Regions from separate parts of the Homo sapiens genome. Here region 2 is linked to region 1. A link means that fine-mapping ties the variant in region 1 to the expression of a gene that starts in the linked region. Tissue or cell type: whole blood. Region 1 holds a variant in brackets; the other region holds the start of a gene. All regions are shown on one strand. Distances are from middle to middle.

Evidence for each region. PIP is the estimated chance that this variant, and not a neighbour inherited with it, causes the effect.
Region 2: it holds the start of PNMA8B, and the variant in region 1 is fine-mapped to the expression of PNMA8B in whole blood (TOPMed, PIP 0.97).

What each region holds. Positions count from the first base shown.
Region 1 is chr19:46,522,574-46,525,256 of GRCh38, reverse strand. It overlaps the pseudogene PPP5D1P. Among named protein-coding and RNA genes, the nearest start is that of PNMA8B, 28 kb to the right of the region's middle. The variant G/A (reference allele first, on the strand shown) is at 1,105.
Region 2 is chr19:46,494,332-46,497,014 of GRCh38, reverse strand. PNMA8B (PNMA family member 8B) reads left to right here and starts at 1,148. Exons shown (of 1, transcript NM_020709.3): 1 at 1,148-2,683. The coding sequence starts at 1,550.

The DNA of each region.
Region 1 (2,683 bases):
ATCACTTGAGGTAAGGAGTTCAATGCCAGCCTGGCCAACATGGTGAAACTTCGTCTCTACTAAAAATACTAAAATTAGCTGGGTGTGGTGGTGCACACCTGTAGTCCTAGGTACTTGGGAGGCTGAGGCAGGAGAATTGCTTGAACCCAGGAAGGGGAGGTTGCAGTGGTCCAAGATCATGCCACTGCACTCCTGCACTCCAGCCTGGGCAAGAGAGCAAGACTCCATATCAAAAAACAAAAACAGAAACAGAAAAAGAAAAAGAAGGAAGGAAGGAAGGGGCTATTATAAATGCTCTAAAACTTTAGAAAAAAACTTCAATGACACTGTTAATTTCCTCCAAGGCTTACAAACCGAGGTTTCTAGCCTTGCTTCAATAATTTCACAAAATGTATGAGTCTGAGCTACTCTAACTGCCCAAAAAGGAGGTATAATGAATGAAGCTGTCATTTCTGTGTTAATATATCAAGAATTTTTGCCCACACTTCAGAGGATTTTAAAGAACAGATGTAAATCTTATCAGATAGGTGATACTTTTTCCATTTATTTATTTAGTTGGTTACATCTTGGCTCCTGGGAATCTCTCCTCTGGTGAATTTTCCAACCCTTGGCTATATTATTCTCCTCCTAGTCATGATATTAACCTCCCTGGGAGTTGCATCCTCTTAAGGGTTTCCAATGCCTCTCAACAGCCACTGATGCAACTAATGACACCCATCTGCATTAGACAACTTGGAGAACCTAAGGACTCTACCACATATGTCTAAGATGACTATGCAGCTATCAAAAATGACTATACACCCATCTGTCCCAGCCAATAGCACTCCCAGAAAGTAATGCTATACGATTTCATTACCCCCTCAGCTTGCTATGTCAAAAGGGGAAAGTTGTTAAAATAAAATGGGGGGAGCCAGGCGCAGTGGCTCACACCTGTAATCTCAACACTTTGGGAGGCCAAATTGGGAGGATCCTTGAGCCCAGGAGTTTGAGACCAGCCTGGGCAACATGGCAAGACTCCATCTCTATAAAAGTAAAAAAAAAAAAATTAGCTGCACAAAGTGGTGCATGCCTGTGGTCCCAGCTACTTGCGAGGCTGAGGCAACA[G/A]GATCACCTGAGCACAGGAGGTTAAGGCTACAGTGAGCTGCGATCGTGCCATTCACTCCAGCCTGGGCAACCGAGCGAGACCCTGTTTCACACACACACACACAAAACTAGGGGGGGTGGATCCGGACTGAGAATTCCCCAAGAAGACAAAATCAGGCCACATAAGCAAAACCTAAGGTACTCTGACTTTTGAATGTAAGCGAAACTCAACTTAGATCTCGATCTCTCTCTCAATCTCTCTCCCTTGTTTTTTTTTTTTTTTTCTGAGATGGAGTCTGGCTCTGTCGCCCAGGCTGGAGTTCAGTGGTGCGATCTCGGCTCACTGCAAGTTCCGCCTTCTGGGTTCACGCCATTCTCCTGCTTCAGCCTCCCGAGTAGCTGGAACTACAGGCGCCCGCCACCTAATTTTTTGTATATTTAATAGAGACGGGGTTTCACCATGTTAGCCAGGATGGTCTCAATCTCCTGACCTCGTGATCCGCCCACCTTGGCCTCCCAAAGTGCTGGGATTACAGGCGTGAGCCACCACGCCCGGCTATCTCTCTCCCTTTCTTTCCTTTCTCCTTTCCTTTCTCTCTTTCTTTCTTTCTTTCTTTCTTTCATGGAATCTTGCTCTGTGACCCAGGCTGGAGTATAGTGGCATGATCTCTGCTCACTGCAGCCTCCATCTCCGGGGTTCAAGCAATTCTTGTGCTTCAGCCTGCCAAGTAGCTGGGATTACAGGCACGCACCACCACGCCCTGCTAATTTTTGTATTTTGTATTTTTTTTTTTTTAGTAGAGACGGGGTTTCACCATGTTGCTCAGGCTGGTCTCAAACTCCTGACCTCAAGTGATCTGTCTGCCTCAGTCTCCCAAAGTGCTGGGATTACAGGGGTGAGCCACCGCACCCAGCCAGCTTAGGTTATTTCTTACAAATGCCTCTGATAATCATAAACGAAACTTAAGTTGCCTTCCCCAAATGATATAAGAGGATTGCTTTTAACCAGTCCCGTGCAATCTGGAAACCTCCACTGTATAGACAGTCACTGTAAAGGTTAAACCACTTCCTGATTTTTGCTTTCTCAGCCATCCTGTAACAACATGCCTCTGAGCTTCTTACTACCTGGGTTGAGGTCTCCTGGATTGTGCCCTGTCCCCACTTTTTTTTAATGACAACAAACTTTTAAATATTTATTCATTGGATCTGATTTTGTTTTGGACACTGGCATGCAAAGGGGAGGGAGATGGTCATAGGACTGTTGTCAACGTTCAAAAGCAAAACAGGATTTATATGAGAAAGGTAAGAGAAGGGAGAGAAAACTTCATACTGAAGTCTGGGTGCCCTGGCTCACACCTGTAATCCCAGCTCCTTGGCAGACTAACACGGGAGGATCACTACAGGCCAGGAGGTCAAGGCTACAGTGAGCCATAATCACGCCATTGCACTCCAGTCTGGGCAACAGAGCAAGACTCTGTCTCAAAAAGAAAAGAAAAATACAACTTTTGACTGAAAACAATGAATTGTGTTTTCACATTTTGGGGGTCAAATTGATTATCCAGAAACTAGAAAAGAGCAGGATGACTGGAGGAGTGAAAGA
Region 2 (2,683 bases), 28 kb after region 1:
GCGGGCAGATCACTTGAGGTTAGGAGTTTGAGACCAGCCTGGGTAACATGGTAAAAACCCATCTCTACAAAAAATACAAAAACTTGCCAGACGTGATGGTGTATGCCTATAATCCCAGCTACTTGGGAGGCCTGTCATCCTTGCTACTCAGGAGGCTGAGGCAGGAGAACCGCTTGAACATGGGAGGCGGAAGTTGCAGTGAACCAAGATTGTGCCATTGCACTCCAGCCTGAGTGACAGAGCAAGACTCCATCTCCAAAACAAACAACAACAAAAAAACAAAACCCTTTGAGGTAGGGATGATGGTTGAGATATAAACCTACCAGCTGGTCTACAGAGCCAGATTCATATAGAGTAGGGGACAGCCTCATGGCCAACAAGGGACAGAGAAGCAAATGCATGTTTACAGTAGCTATGACTGACGTTCACACGCCCCAGTCTGCTGTCCCAGTCAAGGGAAATGCTTTCTTGCAAAATTCATGCCTGGTCTCACAATCATACATATGCTCAAAGCGTGTGCAAAACCACAGGATTTATTGTGCATGCATAGTTCAGAATACAGGAACGTGTATGGGAGTGAGGGCCGGTCCCATCGAGTGGGGCCTGTACCCTGCAAGTGAGGCCCATATACCCTGAATGGTGTCTTGCTCACAGGTGGTGCCTGGGCCCCCCTATTTGATACTGAGACCCATATACTGTGAATGAGGCCAGTATCCCGAGTAAGTCCTGGTCCTACGCTGCAAGGCCAGTGCCCTTTGATTTAGGCCTATATAATCCTGAATTCCACCTGGCCCCTGGAAGGGGGAATTGTAACCCCCAGTGATGCCGGTACCCTCTGGAAGGAGGCCTCTATCCCCTGAATGAGGTCGGGTATCCTTGAGTGATTTCTGGCCCTCTGTGGTTTCGGCCTTGTTTTTTGCTGGTTAATGAAAGTGGTGCTTCCAGGCCCCAAGTCCTTGTCATCGGGACCTTTAAGAAAAGCGTCTCAGGCCACAGCGACGCAGACCCCAGCTCAAGGCTGCACCGTTGCCATGGAGACGGTTGGGCGGGGGACAGGGGAGGGTGTGCGGCTCCCTCTGCGCAGGCGCACGCGCGAGCAGCCGCGTCGCAGCGGAACTGCTGAGATTCAGGCCCAGGGTGCGCGCTCAGACGCGGCGCGAGCGCCAGGCAAGCTGCGGCTGCTACCTCCCACGCCTCTCCAGGTGCACTCGGCGCCGCCCCCCTGCACCTGGCTGCGGTGCCGAGTCACTCAGGCCTGTGTCAGGGAGAGAGGGAGGGAGCTGTCCTGGAAAGCAGACACGTAAGCCCCCCGCGGATCCTCAGACAGCTCTGGAGAGGGGTCCCGGGGGAAGGTCACTGCGTCCAGCCGGCCAGCAGGCAGCTAGAGCCCCCGAGCCCCGAGCCCCACTCCAGCCTTGCCACATTCACCGGAACCGGGACTCTAAGCCCTGCAAGTGGCTTTCTAGGGTTGCATTGACACCGTGCGCTGCAGCCCACCCCTATCTCGGGCTCCCTGCTGCCCCAAGATCAGCGCCAAGGGGGCTGCACCATGGCCATGAGCCTTTTGCAGGACTGGTGCCGGAGCCTGGACGTGGACGCGCACAGGGCCCTGCTGGTCACCGGCATCCCGGAGGGCCTGGAGCAGGCAGACGTCGAAGCCGTCCTGCAGCCGACCCTCCTGCCCCTGGGCACGTTCAGGTTGCGACACATGAAGGCTTTGATGAACGAGAAGGCCCAGGCCGCCCTGGTGGAGTTTGTGGAGGACGTCAATCACGCTGCCATTCCCAGGGAGATCCCAGGCAAGGATGGGGTCTGGAGGGTTCTGTGGAAGGACCGTGCGCAGGACACGAGGGTCCTGAGGCAGATGAGACGCCTGCTGCTGGATGACGGGCCCACGCAGGCCGCGGAGGCTGGGACCCCCGGGGAGGCACCCACCCCTCCCGCTTCGGAGACGCAGGCCCAGGATTCTGGGGAGGTAACAGGGCAGGCTGGCTCGCTTCTTGGGGCAGCCAGGAACCCAAGGAGGGGCCGTCGGGGTCGCAGAAACAGAACCAGACGCAACAGGTTGACCCAGAAGGGCAAGAAGAGAAGCCGAGGAGGACGGCCGTCTGCTCCCGCGAGGAGTGAGGCCGAGGACTCTTCCGACGAGAGCCTGGGCATCGTGATCGAGGAGATCGACCAGGGCGACCTGAGCGGAGAAGAGGACCAGAGCGCGCTGTACGCCACGCTGCAGGCCGCTGCCAGGGAGCTGGTTAGGCAGTGGGCGCCCTGCAACTCCGAGGGGGAAGAAGACGGTCCCCGCGAGTTCTTGGCTCTGGTCACCGTCACCGACAAATCGAAGAAAGAAGAGGCAGAGAAGGAGCCAGCTGGGGCCGAATCCATCCGCTTGAACACCAAAGAAGACAAAAATGGTGTCCCCGACTTAGTGGCCCTGCTGGCTGTGAGAGACACCCCGGACGAGGAGCCGGTGGACAGCGACACTTCGGAGAGCGACTCGCAGGAAAGTGGGGACCAAGAAACAGAGGAGTTGGATAATCCTGAGTTCGTGGCCATTGTGGCCTATACCGACCCGTCGGACCCCTGGGCCCGGGAGGAGATGTTGAAAATCGCTTCTGTTATCGAGTCGCTGGGCTGGAGCGACGAGAAAGACAAGCGAGACCCCCTCCGACAGGTCTTGTCCGTC